4 separate regions of the Homo sapiens genome follow, and all the other regions are linked to region 1. The links come from fine-mapping of genetic effects on gene expression. A gene starts in region 1. Each other region holds a variant in brackets. All regions are shown on one strand. Distances are from middle to middle.

Region 1 (5,039 bases):
TACCTTCCAAGAGAAATCATTCCCTGACCACCTACTTAAAACAGCATCTTCCTCTCCACCCATGTCAATCCCTATCTTATTCCCTTATTCTGCTTTCTTTTCTTTTCTTTTTTTTTGAGACAGGATCTTGCTTTATCACTCAGGCTGAAGTGCAGTGGTGGGATCACAACTCACTGTAGCCTCAAACTCCTGGGCTCAAGCCATCCTCCTGCCTCAGCCTCCCGAGTAGCTGGTTCGACAGGCACACACCATTATGCCCAGCTAATTTTTCTTTTTTTTTTGTATAAACGATGTCTTGATATGCTGCCAGGCTGGTCTTGAACTCCTGGACCCAAACTGCTTTATTTTCTTCATAGTACTTACTAGTACCTGAAATAAAGCTATTGAAGGAAACTAAAACATTTCACCTCAAAACAGACTTATTGGAAATATTTTGAGATGGCCGTTCAGAGGGCCTACAGACAAAAGTAGTCCTACTGTGAGGGAGATGAGCATCTGTTGAGAACCTCCATTGACGCAGCCAGTTTTTCTCAGAGGGCCCTTCCTTGTCTGGATCTGGGTGAGATTAGCTGAATTTGGCACCTTCAAGGTCTGAAACATTTCTTCTCCCTGAGGGCTGCTACCTGTGAGGTTTCATCTACATAAGACCACCTTTGCTAGCCAGGTCTCCTCTTCTCTCCCTCCTATAACCTGATTTACAACCATAACCTGTTTTTGGCCAAGCTTAGAGCCCCCACACTTTCTGTAACCTCAGGATAGTATAATTGTGGCAACCACCTTGCCTTCCTTTGAGATCTTATGTTGTAAGACTCTCACGGCACGTTAGTAAATGTGTATGCCTTCTCTCCTATTAATCTGCCATTTGTCAGTTGATTTTTCAGTGACGCTTCACGGGGCACAAAAGTTTTCCCTTAACTCCTACGCTATACATTTGTTTATCCCTTTTTTTTTCCTATCTCCAACTAGGATGTAAATTCATGAGGGCAAGGTCTCGGTCCTACCTAAATCCCCAGTGTCTAAAACTTTGAGTACTATGTGTTTGAGCACATAGTACACACAAAAAAATTTGTTGAATAAATGTTGATAACAAGATATAATACCTACATCAAAGGGTTTTTGTGAGGATTAAACGCGAGAGTGCACATAGAGGGATATGAGTGCCTAACACAATGCCCAGCACACAGTAAGCTCAATAACGCTGGTCAACGCTATTATCAGAGGATTCCAGAAGACAGGTCAACATGGGCAGGAGCAGTTACAGAACGTTTCAAGGAGGTGGCAGGTCTTGAGCTTGATTTGGAAGGATAATGATTTCTTTCTCTAGGTGGGGACACTGTAGGAAGTTGAAATCTCCTCTGTACAAGCCACCCCTCCCAACATTTCTTCATACTCCTATCAAATGCATAGTCATCATACCCTACAAACCACCTACTAACCAGCCTCTCTCTGTCTGTCCACTAATCCGTTAGTTTTCATTTCTGTATCACCGGAGCCTAGATGAATTCACTACTAAAGGGCACCCAGCAACGTCAGTGAATTAGTTTCAGAAATCTGTGGAAAAGAAACAGCCTACTGTTCTGTCCAGCAATCCAGGCCTAAGTATCTATCCTAAAGAAATAGTGTCAGCATTAAAAATCATGTACAAAGATGTTCACTTGCAAGAGAGAGAGAAAAAAAGTAGCAAACAGAACGTCCACCACTAGGAAACCATGAATAAACTATGATGCGTCCAAACTGTGCAGAGGTTGCACTGAATTAGACAGTTAGTGAAACAATCTCTAAGATATATCGTTAAACTGAAAAAAGAGAATGCACATACAGTGATCTCATTTAGGTAAAACAAAAATTTTAACACCTCATACAAATGAAACCTAAAGATTTCTCTGAATGTGTGCATATTACATATAGATACATGTCTTGTTAACCACTGTATCAACTCAACACTGTGTGCCTGAAACATAGAAAGTTCTCAATAAATATTTGCCGAATGAAGACATATGTACGTGAATAGAAAAAGACTGAAAAATAGATCTGCTTTTTGTGCAAAATATTTCTGTGCTGTTTCCATTTTTAAAAGACTGTCTTAATGTATTACTTGTACAATTAAAATGAATTTAAAACAGTTATAAAAGTTCCAGGACCTCGATATACCATATCTGGTCCAAGCACCAGGCTCTGAGTAACTTCTCCAGGTAACTAACTTCATCGTTTTGAGCCATTAGGGCTCTAGCACAGCAACTCGACGCTCACTTTATCTCTCCAGCATCAGACCCCTTAAAAGCATAAAGATGAATTTTGAGGTGCGGGGTTTTCCATTGCTCCCAAACATCAGTTGACGGCACACTTTTTCTAAAGGGTCCTTTTCTCCCACGCCAAGACATCCCTGGAGCTGGGGTCTGGCTCGGCCTTCCCTGCGCACCCCCTGGGGGCGAGTAAGCGCCGAACGCGGGGAGGAAAATCCTCCTGGTGGGAGTGAGCACGCTGCGCGGACGCGGGGGAACAAAACTCACTTTCCGACTGGCCCCTTCTCTGGCTGTGATCTGTCTCTCCTGCTCAGGCATCGTCCCGCACGGACACCGAATTCTTCTCTGATCTGGCTCAGAGCAAAAGGTCACCTGGTCGGTGGAGGAGAGCGGGGTGTTAAAGTCCCGGGAGAGGAGGCGCAGAGTGTGAGGGCATCGGCGCGGCTCGGCTCTAAAGCAAACAGGGGTCCGGGAACCGCCCCTTCATTTGGGACCGGGGAAGCCGCAGCCCTCTTCACACGGATGATTCAAAGTTGCGCGCCGCCGTCCTCCCGACCTGGGGGCACGGGGATGAGAGCGTGAGGGGAGAGTGGGCCTCGGACCCTCGCCCACTCCCCAGGTGGCTGGGAGTGCCCACCCTGGAACTGCCGGCCCCGCCGGTGCCACAGTGTTCTCTGCCGTGCCAGTGCCACAATGTCCTCTGCCGTGCCGGCGCCGCAGGGCGGAGGCCTGTCCTCCTCCGCGGTCTCGGCCACCTCGCGCTGGTGCGCTCCGACACTGTACTGGGATCTCACGCGTGTGCGGGAGCGGGAGGGCAGGTGAGCTGCGCAGAGCCGGGCCGCAGACTCAGCTCCCAGGGCTCACCCACCGCCTGCGGGGAAGGTGCCCGGCGGCGCCGCGTCGGGTCCGCTCTGCGCTGCCCCCTCCTCGGACTCTGCGCCTGGCTGCCGGACGCCGTGGGTCCCAAAGGAAGCAACCGCGGCAAGAGTGAACTCCGCACCTGGAAAATCGATCCGCTGTGCGCAAAGGCCAGCCAATGGCCTCCAACGGGCGGCGGGCTTTGGGCCGGGAACGGGGGCGCAGGCGCCCAGGCGGGGGCTTCTAGTGGGGGAGGTGGCCGAGGGAGGGAGCGACGGCTGTCAATCACAGGCCACGCCCTCCTCAGCCCAACCCCCCACTGCTGTCCCGCCCACGGGGGCGGGAGCCGTGTGCGCCACGCCGAACACTAGTCTACGCCTCGGCATATTCTATTGGCTGGAAGGCCGTGGGAAGCGGCTACCAGTAACCAATAGTAACGCACAATTGGCCCGTGGGGGCGGGGCGAGCACGGCTTGCTTTCTCAGGAGCCAATAGGGAAAAGGAAAGTGAAGCGTTTCCTGAGTTCGGGGGTCGGCGGAAGATGGCGGCCGGCGAAAGGAGCTGGTGCCTGTGCAAGTTGTTGAGGTGAGCAGCCGGTCGTGTGGGCTCACAGACGTTTTCTCTTCTGTAGGGGTACTTGCCCGTCCAGTGTAGCTAAATTTTGCGGGCAAATGGCCTTCCTTGTCATGAATCTAAGGTAATTTCTCAGGCCAATGAGCAGTCTTTCTTTTTCTTGGGGGTCTTCTATATAGACTGGAATAGACTAGGTCTTAAAGACTCAATTTACCGCGTTTTCTTCTGCTTCACTGTTGGCCGAGGGGTCGAGTTCCCTTCCCTGCTTCAGCTTTTTTTTTCCCTTTCACACTCCAGTTAGTCTGTCATAAATTATTCATATTCATTCCTTATTTTTCTTTACGATTGAGCCACGAGACATTTTCCAATCTATCATGTCTCTTTTCGGTAAAGAAGAAACCGGATCTTCCTTCTCATCTTAGTTTCTACTCTTAAACTCACCAAAACTGCCATTGTTAACACGTCACTTAAATATAAAGCTTATGTTGAATCCTCTGCTTTTTGATAATCTGTTACTTTAATTTTTATGATGTAAGAAGTTACATAAAATATTATTTTATTTGTATTACGTGTATATGCTGTTTCTTCTAGAAAAATTAGAAAATAGATAAGTAAAAGGAAAAAACCCCAGGAATGCTACCATCCGGAGATAGCCACTGTTAACATTTTGGTGAAAAAACTCCCAGGCTTTTTTCCACCTTTGTTGTTGTAGTACTACTGTATTTTAAATGCCTTGCCCTCCACTAATAAAACAGAAGGCCTAGTATATTCTACCTACCTAGTTTTTTTACCACCTACATATTTTTGTTCAGGCTGAAAATTTATAATTAACACCATAGCTTCCTGAATAGCAGTATATACCTAATTCTTTCAAAAGTTCAGGCATTTCTTCTTCGTTTTTGTCCACTCTACTTCAAATTCTGTAATCATTACTTTAAACATTTTGAATGAGAAAGTCTGTTATCAGAGCCTTTTGGTTCTTCCCTGTCATACGTAATATTCCTCAGTGCTTTACATTATAATGTTTAAATAAACTCACTAACCAGACTTAAAGGACAGGTTTAACTTTAGTTATTATGCAGCTTTTAAGTTAAATGTTTAATAGTTCAGTTTGAAAAGCTTGTCACATGAATTTTCCCACCTAAATTATTTGAAGGAATTGCCAGAAAAACCTTTACATTATATGGGTCAGCTGCATTTTAAATAAGCTTTTGAAAGAGTGTCCTGAGAAAGCAAACTGTCCTCTGTAGTGTTGCTTTTATGAATTCATATATTCCAAATGTTAAATAAATGATAAATCTTACCACTTTTGTCAGACTCTGTTCATCCTTTAAGGCAGTGGTTCTCAAATTGTGCTCCATGGAC
Region 2 (5,039 bases), 27 kb before region 1:
CACCCACTAGTATCTGTCACCTCAGGAAAACTACAGCAAAATATCCACACTCGCTCCACTTTCCTCAATATCCCTAATCAAGGCAACCACACTTACAGGAGAAGGCACACAAGACACAAGTCAGAGAAGACAACAGCTCTGGACCACGTACATCCTGAATATCTGGAATGAGTACTGCCTTGCTCGGCCTTATCTAAGAATTCTCTGGATGCCACAAATTCACAGGGGAGGGCACAGGTCAAAAATGATGCCTGACTCAAGAAAGGATCTCACCCAAACCATCCCAGGCATCCAGGCCAGTGGGGGTTGGTCTCTAAAACCCCCACTGAGGAAGAATCAATGTCCCATATTAACCTCTATGAACATTAAGTATACAGGGGGATAAACGTAAATATCAGTAGAGAAAATTCAGGTTATCTTTTGGTGAGTTATGAAATACTGATTTTTAAAAATATCTGTACATAGTTCCAATTTTTCAAACTTAAATTAAAAAAACAAGTGTTACTTTCACAAGCAGAAAATAAATGTGATTTTCCCGTTTGTCTAAGGCAAGCCTGTCCAACCCATGGCCTGCAAGCCACATGCAGCCCAGGATGGCTTTGAATACGGCCCAACACAAATTTGTAAACTTTCTTAAAACATAATGAGATTTTTTTGGGTGTGAATTTTTTTTTTTTTTTTTTAGCTCATCATCTATTATTAGTGTTAGCGTATTTTATGTGTGGCCGAAGACACATTCTTCTTCTAATGTGGCCCAGGAAAGTCAAAAGTTTGGACACCCCTGCTCTAAGGCAAGGAAGAAAATGTTTTGTTAAACCATTCTAATTTGGGCAACAATATTATTGACTGTGATAAAGATAACAACAATGATGAATTGATGACACTTTTGTAAATTGCTTTATAGTTCAAAGAGCATTTTCACATATATTTGTTTAAATATCTGTCTTTCCTACTTCTGAATTTCTTGAGGGTATGTCTGAGAGTTTTAAGTATGAATTCCAGCATTATCTGAGCAAATCCAGGCCTCAGTTTCCTTTAGGTATAAAGGTTTGTGTTTTGGATAGTTTTAAGTGTAGACACAGGGCACATGTATGCTTTTAATTCAGTTCTTCAATTAAGATGATCTTTGGAGGAAAAAACTCTCCTGATGAGTTTTAAAAAACAAACACAGGTTTAGATACAAGAAAGCTCCGGCTGGCATCTGGCGGGAGTAATAATAATGGCCATCTTACAGTTGTACAGGAAGGCTTGAGAGCTAATGGGCCCTAAAAGACTAACATCAGCTTGTGGCAAGATGGCCGAATAGGAACAGCTCCAGTCTGCAGCTCCCAGCGAGATCAACGCAGAAGGAGGGTGATTTCTGCATTTCCAGCTGAGGTACCCAGCTCATCTGGTTAAACAGCGGGTACAGCCCATGGAGGGCAAGCCAAAGCAGGGTGGGGTGTTGCCTCATGCAGGAAGCACAAGTGGTTAGTGAACCTCCTCCACTAGCCAAGGGAAGCCGCGAGGGACTGTGCCATGAGGAATGGTGCACTCTGGTCCAGGCACTACACTTTTCCCACGGTCTTCACAACCCACAGACCAGGAGATTCCCTCGGGTGCCTACACCACCAGGGCCCTGGGTTTCAAGCACAAAACTGGACAGCCGTTTGGGCAGACACCAAGCTAGCTGCAGGAGTTTTTTTTTCATACCCCAGTGGTGCCTGGAATGCCAGCAAGACAGAACCGTTCACTCGCCTGGAAAGGTGGCTGAAGCCAGGGAGCCAAGTGGTCTAGCTCAGCGGATCCCACCCCTACAGAGCCCAGCAAGTTAAGATCCACTGGTTTGAAATTCTCACTGCCAGCACAACAGTCTGAAATCGACCTGGGATGCTCAAGCTTGGTCGGGGGAGGGGCATCCACCATTACTGAGGCTTGAGCAGGTGGTTTTCCCCTCATAGT[G/A]TAAACAAAGCCACAGGGAAATGGCAACTGGCTGGAGCCCTCCGCAGCTCAGCAAAGCTACTGTAGCTAGACTGCCTCTCTAGATTCCTCTTCTCTGGGCAGGGCATCTCTGAAAAAAAGGCAGCAGCCCCAGTCAGGGGCTTATAGATGAAGCCATCTCCCTGGGACAGATCACCTGGGGCAAATGGTGGCTGTGGGTGCAGCTTCAGCAGTCTCAAAGGTCCCTGCCTGCCAGCTCTGAAGAGAGCAGTGGATCTCCTAGCACAGTGCTCGAGCTCTGCTAAGGGTCAGACTGCCTCCTCAAGTGGGTCCGTGACCCCTGTGTCTCCTGACCAGGAGACACCCCCCAGCAGGGGCCAAAAGATACCCCATACAAGAGAGTCTGGCTGGCATCTGGCAGGTGCCCCTCAGGGACAATGCTTCCAGGAAGGAACAGGCAGCAATCTTTGCTGTTCTGTAGCCTCTGCTGGTGATACTCAGGCAAACAGGGTCTGGAGTGGACCTCCAGCAAACTCTAGCAGACCTGCAGCAGAGGGACCTGACTGTTAGAAGGAAAACTAACAAACAGAAAGGTATAGCATCAATATCAACAAAAAGGACGTCCACTCAGAAACGCCATCCGAAGGTCACCAACATCAAAAAGCAAAGGTAGATAAATCCATGAAGATGGGGAGAAACCAGCGCAACAAGCCTGAAAATTCCAAAAACCAGAATGCCTCTTCTCCTTCAAAGGATCACAACTCCCTCGCCAGCAAGGGAACAAAACTGGATGGAGAATGCGTTTAACAAATTGACAGAAGTAGGTTTTAGAAGGTGGGTAATAAAAAAACTCCACCGAGCTAAAGTAGCATGTTCTAACCCAAGGCAAGGAAGCTAAGAACCCTGAAAAAAGGTTAGAGAAATTGCTAACTAGAATAATCAGTTTAGAGAGGAACATAAATGACCTGATGGAGCTGAAAAACACAGCACAAGAACTTCGTGAAGCATACACAAGTATCAATAGCCAAATCGATCAAGCAGAAGAAAGAATATCAGCGACTGAAGATCAACTTAATGAAATAAAGCGTGAAGACAAGATAGAGAAAAAAGAATGAAAAGGAACAAACAAAGCCTCCAAGAAATATAAGACTATGTGAAAAGACCAAACATAAGTTTGACTGGTGTACCTGAAAATGACGGGGAGAATGGAACCAAGTTGGAAAACACTCTTCAGGATATTATCCAGGAGAACTTCCCCAACCTAGCAAGACAGGCCAACATTCAAATTCAGGAAATACAGAGAACACAACAAAGATACTCCTCAAGAAGAGCAACCCCAAGACACATAATCGTCAGATTCACCAAGCTTGAAATGAAGGAAAAAATGTTGAGGGCAGCCAGAGAGAAAGGTCAGGTTACCCACAAAGGGAAGCTCATCAGACTTAACAGCAGATCTCTCTGCAGAAACCCTACAAGCCAGAAGAGAATAGGGGCCAATATTCGACATTCTTAAAGAAAATAATTTTCAACCCAGAATTTCATATCCAGCCAAACTAAGCTTCATAAGTGAAGGAGAAATAAAATTCTTTACAGACAAGCAAATGCTGAGAGATTTTGTCACCACTAGGCCTGCCTTACAAGAGTTCCTGAAGGGAAGCACTAAACATGGAAAGGAACAACTGGTACCAGTCACTGCAAAAACATACCAAATTGTAAAGACCATAGACACTATGAAGAAACTGCATCAACTAATAGCCAAAATAACCAGCTAGCATCATAATGACAGGATCAAATTCACACATAACAATACTAACCTTAAACGTAAACAGGCTAAATGCCCCAATTAAAAGACACAGACTGGCGAATTGGATAAAGAGTCAAGACTCATTGATGTGCTGTATTCAGGAGACCCACCTCATGTGCAAACACACACATAGGCTCGAAATACAGGGATGGAGGAAGATTTACCAAGCAAATGGAAAGCAAAAAAAAGTCGGGGTTGGAATCCTAGTCTCTGATAAAACAGACTTTAAACCAAAAAGATCAAAAGAGACAAAGAAGGGCCTTACATAATGGTAAAGGGATCAATGCAACAAGAAGAGCTAACTATCCTAAATATATATGCACCCAATACAGGAACACCCAGATTCATAAAGCAAGTTCTTAGAGACCTACAAAAAGACTTAGACTTCCACACAGTAATAGTGGGAGACTTTAACACCCCACTGTCAATATTAGACAGATCAATGAGGCAGAAAATTAACAACGATATTCAGGGCTTGAAATCAGCTCTGGACCAAACAGACTTAATAGACATCTACAGAACTCTCCACCCCAAATCAACAGAATATACATTCTTCTCAGCACCACATTGCAGTTATCCTAAAATTGACCACATAATTGGAAGTGAAACACTCCTCAGCAAATGCAAAAGAACAGAAATAATAACAAACAGTCTCTCAGATCACAGTGCAATCAAATTAGAACTCAGGATTAAGAAACTCACTCAAAACTGTAAAACTACATGGAAACTGAACAACCTGCTCCTGAATGACTACTGGGTAAATAATGAAATTAAGGCAGAAATAAGTTCTTTGAAGCCAATGAGAACAAAGACACAACATCCCAGAATCTCTGGGACACAGCCAAAGCACTGGTTAGTGGGAAATTTCTAGGACTAAATGCCCACAAAAGAAAGCTGGAAAGCTCTAAAATCAACACCCTAACACCACAATTAAAAGAACTAGAGCAGCAAGCGCAAAGAAATTCAAACGCTAGCAGAAGACAAGAAATAACTAAGATCAAAACAGAACTGAAGGAGATAGACACATGAAAAACCTTTCAAAAAAATCAATGAATCCAGGAGCTGGTTTTTTGAAAAGATCAACAAAATAGATAGACCGCTAGCCAGACTAATAAAGAAGAAAAGAGAGAGGAATCAAATCGATGCAATAAAAAATGATAAAGGAGATATCACCACCGATCCCACAGAAATACAAACTACCATCAGAGAATACTACAAACACCTCTAAGCAAATGAACTAGAAAATCTAGAAGAAATGGATAAATTCCTGGACACATACACCCTCCAAAGTCTAAACTAGGAAGAAGTCGAATCC
Region 3 (5,039 bases), 90 kb before region 1:
TAGTCTTTGGAACAACGTCTTGCTCTGTCATCCAGGCTGGAGCACAGTGGTGCAATCACAGCTCACTGAAGCCTGAACCTCCCCAGCTCAAGTATCCTCCCACCTCAGCCTCCCAAGTAGCTGGGACCACAGGGACACGTCACCATGCCTGGCTAATTTTTGAAATTCTTTTTTTTTTTTTTTTTTTTTTTTTGTAGAGACAGGGTTTTGCCATGTTGCCCAGGCTGGTCTCGAACTCTTGAGTTCAAGTGATCCACTCACCTTGGCCTCCCAAAGTGCCAGGATTACAGGCATGAGCCACCATGACCGGCCCCATAATTAGAAATTATTTTTCTTTCCTGGACCTCCTTATGACACATCTCTCCTGGCTCTGCTCCTTTCTGAAACCTCCTATTCCCATCTTTTCCTTCTCTTTCTCTACCTGCTTTGTGAAAAATAAGTGCTTCCCAAGGCCCTTGCTCGCCTCTGTGTGAAGTGCCAGTGGCCAGTGCCGAGGCCCAGGTGAAACTCCCCAGCCCACTGATTCACCTGAGCCTGCTGTGAAGGTGAGCCAATGCTATAGCTTTAGTCCTGCCCTCTCTACAAACACCAGACCCACGTGTATTTTTAAAAATTTACACATATTTTAAATATGTATATAAATACAGAGAATAAGAAGACAAAATCCCTGACCCACTACCCAGATTTAACCAGTGCTGACATTTTGGTACATTTGCTTCATAGTTTTAGAAATAACAAGTTACAAATATAGCTGAAGGCCCCGACACACCTCTCCCAGACCCCATTCTCTTCTCTTGCTCCCCATAGGAAACCACCGATCTGAACTTGGTATATAGCCCCAGACCATGTTTGTACTTTGACCACAGAGACTGGTGTCTAGAACAATACATAAAATTATTTTTTTTAATCTTCATGACTCTTTAAGTATCTGTAATTTTTTTCACTCAACACTGTGTTTTCCCCATATTGATACACACAGATCCTGTTGGTTCATTCTGAATGCTGCAGAGTAAATACTTTCTCTTATGACACACATCGCAAGTTGTCTGTCCACTTCCCTAAGCAGACGTCTCGGCTGTGTCCCGAGCAAACGGTGCCATGGTGACCTGCCTTTGCAGGTCTCCTGCTGCGCACCTGCGTGAGCATGTCGCTCTCCTCACCTGCCACCGTCCCTGTGACATTTTCTTGTGCTTGTTTGCTTTTCTGACTCCCCCACTCAAATGCAAGCAAAGAAAGTGAGTACTTTCATCTCTATGCTATTAATGCATCATGCCTAGCTCATAGTGGATTAATATGAAGGAGAAAAGGAAGGAAGGAAAGGAAGAAGGAAGGAAGGAAAGGAGGGAGGGAGGCTTTCTATCACCAGGCTCAGGAGCTAAGGACTAGGCAATACGTGGAATTATTTTGTGGAAGTCCAGGTATGACGTTGCAGTGAGGAATCCAAGAGGCATTTTAATAGCAATGTATATGCCTGCAACCAAAGAACATACTCTCAGCAAGCGTTTTACCTCTCAGCAGAAAGATGTGAGCTGCTGCCTGTATTTTGCGCTGCTGCCTGTATTTTGCACTGCTCCTGAAACGGGTCTGATAACAGCTAGTTATAGAATATTTGGTGTCATTTTCCAGATGAAGGGAACTACATGGTCTCAAGCCAGCTAAGACTTGACAGAGAAAAGATAAGACTTTGACAGTAATTCAGCCAACGTGTATTTCCACTCCTGCTCTGTGCCAGGCAGCACAGGTGAGCCCTGAGGAGGGTCTGGGTAGGGCATGGCCTCTTCACTCCCCTACAATCCACTCACCACATGAAGCAAATCATGTCACGCCCCTCCTTCAAGCCCTCCAATGTCTCCCAGCAGCTTTGCAATAAAGTGTCAACTTCTTGCTCTGCTGGTGTCTTTGAGATCTGGGCCTGTTCTTCCTGCCTCCCTCCATCCTACCCATGTGCACCAGTGCTGACCCTCCCAGCCGGGTCCCCTCAGGGCTTTCTCACTCACAGGGCAGTATCTTCCCATGGCAATCCCCCTCCCCACCTCTCATCACTGCCTCCTCTACCCTGCTGTCCTGCTACAGTGTCTTCATGGCACTTTCCACTGGCAGAAATGACAGGATTTGCCTATTATTGCTGTCTCTTTGTTCCACTAGAATGTAAACTCATGAAGGGCAGGAGCCTTGTCTGAATCGTTTCTTGGCTGTAGATCCCTCACCTACAATTGCGACAGTCACCTAATGAGTATTTATTGCAAGTGGACTTCCGGTGGCCTTCAGATTCTCTGCCCCATCGTGCCTGAGGCCCAGCTGTGAAACTGCAACATTCCTGCACTCCAATTATGGATTCCCCTTAGGCTCAAACTCATTTCATTTTGCTTGTGATAACTGCAATTCACAGCTCTGCGACGCCTGGTGGGAGAGGAGCTAGGCAGAGAGCTTGCTGTATCAGGAGGCAGCCATTGAGTGCTGACCCTGGTCAATACGCAGACATTGATCTGAGAATGGAGAAGCGGCTACACATTTCTCAGGCTGTCAAGTACCTGCAGTGACCATGAGCAGTAAGGTGTGTGGCAAGAGATGGGGCAAGCCCTGGGTTTTCCTTCAAGACCTGGTGCAGAGCAGACGTT[C/T]GGATATCTAGCAGGTTTGCCTCTCAATCCATAAACCTGGGTCTCTAGTGAACTGCTATTCCAGTCTCTAATTCCACTGGGCTGGAAATTACAGATTGGTTGTTACTGGACTCCAGGAGGCTCCCAAAGTCTCACAGAAATCCAGGAGACTTAAATGATCCAAGGGCAGGAAAGAAGGCTGCTCATCCCAGCCTAGCAGCGGATTTGCTCCTCAGTCTTCAGTGTCTAAGCTCAGAGCAGTTCCTGCAAGTCTACCTCCAGGCAAGGGAATCTACCGAGGTGGGGCACCCCTGGGGGCTGTGCCTCTCTAAGGCACACCAGGCACCCTCTTCCTCGGAGCTCTTGCTGTCAGTAGCCCACCTAAGCACACATCCAGGCAACACCTGTCCTTTGCTCACCCAGGCCACAGGGGAAGCTCTGGGCAACTCCTCTTCCAGGACATTAACGCAGCATAAGGGGATAATGGTCTGCTCTACCTTCAAGCCGTCAGAACTTAAGGGGCTCAAGCATCTTTTTCTCACAGACATGTGCCCCCTGCTCTCCCCTCTCTCCCACTCAGCTGGGGAGCGGAGGTCCAAAGCATTTTCTCAGAAACTCAACCTGATGTAATCTTTCTCACATTCTTTCTCATCAGTATCCCTCCCCACCCACTGTGTGCGTGTGTGTGTGTATGTGTGTGTGTGTTGGGGATATGTGTTGGTTCAGCCTGATCATGCAATCTCTCCACTCATTTATACGTGTGGGTTGTGCTTTTTAAAACATAACTGTCAAGACTTAACGTCTTTGTTTTCTTGTTCCTCCCTCACACCTCTCTGCAGGCAGCCCTGGCCTCTTGAGCAGGGAGTGTCAGAGGGTGGAGATGGCGTATCAGTTCATCCTTTACAGACCATCCAACCGCAGGAGTTATCGCTTGAAAAAAGGTTTCACAGTTCGTTGGGAAATGCTGGGCACATGCCCTTTTCTTAATGACTCACGGGGCAGATAAACACAGGAAGGGTCATCTCCAGAAAAGAGCCCTGTTTATACACTAGTGATTCCCAAATGCGCTCAGCTTCAGAGGCTTCTTCAGAGAAGTCTTGGGTGGGCGTGGCCCAGGCTTAGGCTCCTGTTCCCAGGACTGCTGGGTTGTATTTCTATATACAAAGCAGTTGATACTTTTCACGGTAATTTTTTAAATTATTTTTATTTATTTAGTTTTGGGGACAGGGTCTGGCCCTGTCACCCTGGCTGGAGCACAGTGGTGTGATCACAGCTCACTGCAGCCTCAACCTGCCAGGCGACAGCAGTGACTCCTGTGGGACAGGGATCACACCTGCAGAAGAGCTTAGGTGGGTGGATTCACTTCCTGTTGCAGCTGTAACAAACTACTGCAAACTTCATGGCTTAAAACAATGCAAATTTGTCCTCTTACCGTCCCAGAGGTTGGAAGTTTGAAATGGGTCTTATGAGCTAAAATCAAGATGTGGGCAGGGCTGGGTCCTTCTGGAGGCTCCAAGGGAGGATCTATTCCTCGCCTCTTCCAGCTTCTGAGGCCACCACAGTCCTTGGCTTGTGGCCCTGCCTCCATCTCCAATCGCATCCCTCCAACCTCTTCCTCTATCATTGCATCTCCTCTCTGATCCTCCTACCTCCCTCTTAGAAACACCCTTGTGATTATCTGGGGCCACCCACATGGTCCAGGATCCTCTTGCCATGTCAAGACCCTTAATCACATGTGCAGGGCTCCTTTTGCCCTTCACAGGCTCTGAGGATTCGGATGAGGATGTCTTGGGGGCCACTGTTCTGCCAGCTGCAGGGTGTGGTGCTGGAGGCATGGAGTGGGCTGTCTGAATCCTCCATCAGAGTCCGGTGATGGCAATGTAACCTCACGTGGAGCTGGCTGGATGATTCTTGGACAAGCCTCTGTTGGCAAATCCTGATGAGCCCTAGGCACTCTGCACTGCAGCCTGCCAATGCCAGCAGGGATGGGAGACTACACTTTTGACAAACCAAGTCCAGTCCTAGACACTGAGATCTGGGCTGCGACTCAGTCCTCTCTGCCCCATCGCCTGTGATGGGACCTCTCCGGAGACAGAATGCGATGGGCTGGTGAGGAGCTGCTCTGTGACCTGACAGGCTTCACTGCCACCACCACAGCCACCTGGGGAGGCGATGGAATGGGTGGCTTGTTAAGGCCAGGAAAAGCAACAGTGTCAGTTGTGCCACACCCACACTGAGATCGGTTGAAAGCCCACAGCCAAGCACCAGACCCTCAGGCAGCACATCTCACAGTGGAAAGTGCCGGCAGCCACTCAGATGCTTTGGGGCTGGCGCTGTGGACTTGAGAGCCACTGGTGAGACAAACAGCTCCAAAGCTGCCTGTTCAAAGAAGAAGAGAGAAAAAGAAGGGAGGAGAGAAGGAAGGGATGGAAAAAAAGGAAG
Region 4 (5,039 bases), 87 kb after region 1:
TTCCTCCTGCATGTAAGATGAGCCTGCCTCCCCTTCTGCTATGATTATAAATTTCCTGAGGCCTCCCCAGCCATACTTCCTGTACAGCCTGCAGAACTGTGAGCCAATTAAATGTATTTTCTTTATAAATTACCCAGTCTCAGGTGTTCTTTATAGCAGTATGAGAATGGACTAACACAGTACATTGATACCAGGAGTGGGGTATTGTATAAAGATACCTGAAAATGTGAAAGTGACTTTGGAACTGGGTAATGGGCGGAGGTTGGAAGAGCGTGGAGGGCTCAGAAGAAGATAGGAAGATGATGGAAAGTTTGGAATGCCCTAGAGACTTCTTAAAATCATAGTGACCAAAATGCTGATAGTGATATGGTCAATAAAGTCCAGGCTAAGGAGGTCTCAGATGGAGATGAGGAACTTATTGAGAAATGCAGCAAAGGACACTTTTGTTATGAATTAGCAAAGAGGTTGGAGGCATTGTGCCACTACCCTAGGGATCTGTGGAACTTTGAACTTGAGAGTGATGATTTAGGGCGTCTGACAGAAAAAATTTCTAAGCAACAAAGTATTCAAGATGTGGCCTGGCTGCTCTAGCACCCTATGGTCATATTTGTGAGCAAATAAATGATGTAAAACCAGAGCTTATACTTAAAAGAGAAGCAGAGTGTAAAAGTTAGGAAAGTTTGCAGCCTAGAAAGAAAAACCCATTTTCTGGGGAGCAATTCAAACCAGCTGCAGAAATTTTCAAAAATAAAGAGGAGTCAAATGTTGTTAGCCAAGATAATGGGGGAAATGCCTTGAAGGCATTTCAGAGACCTTTGAGGCAGCCCCTCTCATCACAGGCCCAGAGGCCTAGGAGGGAAGAATGGCTTTGAGGACCAAGCCCAGGGCCCCACTGCTCTGTGCAGCCTCAGGACATGGTGTCCTGTATTGTGGCTGCTCCAGCTCCAGCCATGGTTAAAACGGCCCAAGGTACAGCTCAGGCCATTGCTTCAGAGGGTGCAAGCCGTAAATCTTGGTGGCTTCCACATGGTGTTAAGTCTGCAGATGCACAGAGTGCAAGAGTTGAGGCGTGGGAGCCTCCACCAAGATCTCAGAAGATGTATGGAAAAGCCTAGTCGTCCAGGCAGAAGCCTGTTTCAGGGGGACCCTCTACTAGGGCAGTGCAGAGGGGAAATGTGGCATTGGAGCCTCCACACAGAGTCCCCACTGGGGCACTGCTTAGTGGAGCTGTGAGAAGAGGGCCACCATTCTCCTGACTCCAAAAACGGTAGATTGAACGACAGCTTGCACCACGCACCTGGAAAAGCCGCAGACACTCAACAGCAGCCTGTGAGAGCAGCCGCAGGGGCTGTAGCCTGCAAAGCCTCAGGAGCAGAGCTGCCCAAGGCCTTGAGAGCCCACTCCTCACACCAGTATGCCCTGGATGTGAGACATGGGGTCAAAGGAATTTGGAGCTTTAAGATTTAATGACTGCCCTGCTAGGTTTTGAATTTGCATGGGGTCTATAAACCCTTTGTTTTGGCTGATTTCTCCCTTTTGAAATGGGTGTATTTACCCAATGCCTGTACCCTCATTGTATTTTGGAAGTAACTAACTTGTTTTTTATTTTACAGCCTCACAGGTGGAAGGGACTTGACTTGTCTCAGAGAGACCTTGAATTGTGGACTTTTGAGTTAATGCTGAAATGAGTTAAGCCTTGGGGGACTGTTGAGAAGGGATAATTGTATTTTGCAATGTGAGAAGGATATGGGAATTGGGAGGGGCCAAAGGTGGAATGATATGGTTTGGATTTGTGTCCCTGCCCAAATTTCATGTTGAATTGTAATCCCTGATGTTGGAGGAGGGGCCTGGTGGAAGGTGATTAGATTATGGGGACAGATTTCCCTCTTACTGTTCTTGTGATAGTAAGTTCTCCAGAGATCTGGTTGTTTACAAGTGTGTAGCACCTCCCCCTTTGCTCTCTTTCTCCTGCTCTGGCCATTTAAGATGAGCCTGCTTCCCCTTCTGCCATGATTATAAGTTTCCTGCGGCCTCCCCAGCAATGCATCCTGTACAGCCTGCAGAACTGTAAGCCAATTAAACCTCTTGTCTTTATCAACTACCCAGTCTCAAGCAGTTCTTTATAGTAGTATGAGAACAGACTAATACATCCAGGCTGCAGTGAGCTGAGACATGCCACTGCCCTCTAGCCTGGGTGACACAGCAGGACCCTCTTTCAAATAAATAAATAAATAAATAAATAAATAAATAAATAAATAAAGCCCTTTATCAAATGAAGGGCAATAACTTAAACAATCGGTTTTTAAAAAAATGTTTATATACCAACACATTTTCTAAAATGTCTATATATCAAGTAAACACTTAGTAAATACACTTCCAAATGGTTC[T/TC]TAATTTAACCATGAGCCTTCTTTAAAAATACAATTCTTTAATTAAAAGACAGTAGCCATTTTATCATTTACATACCAGAAGCATTTCACTAGTATGACCTAAAAGATTCAACACTCTGCTGAAGTGAATTCAAATAATTAAACACAAAGAATCACTAGGGAAATATCAATTATTATATCATAAAAACTTCTCAATCCTATACATAATATGTTAGAATTAAGAATATTAAATGCAGAGTGTTTTCTGTTGCTATGTTACTCACTTTTCCTATACAGAAAAATCTTATTTATTAGAAATTAGAAGAATTTCAGTTATAAAAAGAAAATTAAGCCTAAAGTATACTTATAAGAGCATACAGCATTGTTTCATAAAATATAAAAACTAGAAGTTGTCCAACAAAATACCATTATAATGCTCAGTACAGAATACTTCATTTTAAGTACAAAATTTGTGGACTCCAAACAATAAGCTTGTACCTCATGAACATGTGCAGATAGGTCTGTCAGAATATACCATAGCTTAATGGGTTAAAAAAACAAAAGAATGAATAAGACCTACTATTTGATAGCACAATAGACTGCCTATGGTCAATAGTAACTTAATTGTACATTTTGAAATAAGTTACAGAGTATAACTGGGTTGTTTGTAACTCAAAGGATAAATACTTGAGGGGACAAACACCCTATTCTCCATGATGTGCTTATTTCACATTGCTTGCCTGTATCAAAACATCTCATATACCCCATAAATATATACACTTACTATGTACCCACAAAAATTTTTTTTTTAATTAAAAAATTAAAGAAAAAGAATATAACAGCTGGGTGCAGTGGCTTATGCTTGTAATACCAGCACTTTGGGAGGCCGAGGCAGGCTGATCGCAAGGTCAGGAGTTCGAGACCAGTCTGACCAACATGGTGAAACCCTGTCTCTACTAAAAGTATAAAAATTAGCCGGGGCCGGGCGCCATGGCTCACACCTGTAATCCCAGCACTTTGGGAGGCCCAGGCAGGTGGATCACGAGGTCAAGAGATGGAGACCATTCTGGCCAATATGGTGAAACCCCATCTCTACCAAAAATACAAAAATTAGCTGGGCATAGTGGCACACGTCTGTAGTCCCAGCTACTCAGGAGGCTGGGGCAGAAGAATTGCTTGAACCCGGGAGGTGGAGTTTGCGGTGAGCCGAGATCGCGCCACTGCACTCCAGCCTGGCGACAGAGCGAGACTCCGTCTCAAAACAAACAAACAAACAAACAAAAAGCATATACCATAGCTAAAAAACACAAAGGAGGGTTTAGAATGACTTACAGATCTGGCCTTCTGGGCTCCAGCTGGTGGTCTCCATTCATTTCTATGCAATATAGCATTCCTTTTAATTGGCACAGATATCCTTGATCTTGGTGGGCACTTTCCCTGGAATCTCACTTTTTGTATTTTACACTCTTAATTAACCAAAATAAAACAGCTTCAATTTTTTAAAAATTGTACACCATTAATACTGATACTTGTAAGAGTATAAACATAAGCTACATTTCATAACACAGTAAGTTTACTTTTTAGCCAGAGATATTTTACACACAGTGAGAGTACTGATGAAAAATTAATATGCAATTTCTTTAAATGAAAAAAACCATTTTTTCAGAGTCCCTTTGCATATTTCTAGTAATATATAACATCACTTTTTTTCAGAAAAATAGAAATTAATATTAACATTTACAGAAACAATATGTATGGGGTAATAATAAAAGTTATTAAATTTGGTCATTAGAGCTTGGGTTATCAGGCCACTCCATTCATGCCACATTGTTTGGAATTTATGAGTAGATCTTCTCTCTTTTTTTTTTGTTGAGACAGTCTCACTCTGTCACCCGGGCTACGGTGCAGTGGCAGGGTCTGAGCTCACTGCAACCTTCACCTCCCGAGTTCATGCGATTCTTGTGCCTCAGCCACCCAAGGAGCTGGGATTACAGGCATGGGCCACCAGGTCCAGCTAATTTTTGTATTTTTAGTAAAGACATGGTTTGGCCATGTTGGCCAGACTGGCATCAAACTCCTGGCCTCCGGTGACCTGCCCTCCTTGGCCTCCCAAAGTGCCAGGACTGAGGTATGAGTAGATCTTCTAATGCTTGTCTTTATCTCCATCAAAATTTGTTCTTGGGCTGAGTAAGGTGGCTCGCACCTGTAATCCCAGCAATTTGGGAGGCCAAGGTAGGAGGATTGTTTGAGCTCAGGAGTTCGAGACCAGCCTGGGCAACACAGTGAGACCCCATCTCAATAAAAAAAAAATTGTTCTTGTTCTCCTATCTTACCTAGATTAGAAATATGGACAATACACAGTCCCATACTCTGTACTTGTCTATTTTCTAAACATTCTCAATCTAGACTGGTATACAACAATGTTAGTCAAATTAAATGGCAAAGAGGCTCATTCACTTTCTCTTTAACTTTCCTTGATTTTAGAATCTCTGTCTCAATGGATAACATTTCCCTGTCATGGATTCCTTTGAGAGGCTTTCTGCTCCTCCTGATATTGTAAGTCCAGGCATTCAGTTACAGCTAAATTCTGGGGCTTTGACTTTCACAGCATCAAATGAATTAGTAATTTTCTCTTTCTTAACGTACCCCTCCCTCTGACACACAGCTTAGCTG

Direction of the effects. Alleles are on the strand shown, and positions count from the first base shown. SD is a standard deviation of normalised expression in the study named. Not every link is listed here.
As copies of T replace TC in region 4, the expression in unexposed skin of the gene that starts at base 2,674 in region 1 goes up (moderate effect, 0.49 SD a copy in GTEx).

The links. PIP is the estimated chance that this variant, and not a neighbour inherited with it, causes the effect. A credible set is the group of variants that fine-mapping cannot tell apart.
Region 2: its variant is the best candidate, but not a certain one, in a credible set for the expression of ATP7B in unexposed skin (GTEx, PIP 0.60).
Region 3: its variant is the best candidate, but not a certain one, in a credible set for the expression of ATP7B in cerebellum (GTEx, PIP 0.52).
Region 4: its variant is the best candidate, but not a certain one, in a credible set for the expression of ATP7B in unexposed skin (GTEx, PIP 0.57).

Annotation. Positions count from the first base shown.
Region 1 is chr13:52,008,777-52,013,815 of GRCh38, forward strand. ATP7B (ATPase copper transporting beta) reads right to left here and starts at 2,674. Exons shown (of 21, transcript NM_000053.4): 1 at 2,511-2,674. The coding sequence starts at 2,561. It overlaps ALG11 (ALG11 alpha-1,2-mannosyltransferase), which reads left to right and starts at 3,622. Exons shown (of 4, transcript NM_001004127.3): 1 at 3,622-3,686. The coding sequence starts at 3,643. RefSeq lists silencers at 2,881-3,220, 3,271-3,380, 3,391-3,490 and enhancers at 3,611-3,740, 3,791-3,880.
Region 2 is chr13:51,981,341-51,986,379 of GRCh38, forward strand. The region is part of intron 1 of ATP7B (ATPase copper transporting beta); the gene reads right to left. Among named protein-coding and RNA genes, the nearest start is that of ATP7B, 28 kb to the right of the region's middle. The variant G/A (reference allele first, on the strand shown) is at 1,942.
Region 3 is chr13:51,918,636-51,923,674 of GRCh38, forward strand. It overlaps a transcript of TMEM272 not described here. Among named protein-coding and RNA genes, the nearest start is that of CCDC70, 59 kb to the left of the region's middle. The variant C/T (reference allele first, on the strand shown) is at 2,619.
Region 4 is chr13:52,096,045-52,101,083 of GRCh38, forward strand. NEK5 (NIMA related kinase 5) reads right to left here. Exons shown (of 24, transcript NM_001365552.1): 12 at 3,699-3,832. Among named protein-coding and RNA genes, the nearest start is that of NEK5, 31 kb to the right of the region's middle. The variant T/TC (reference allele first, on the strand shown) is at 2,388.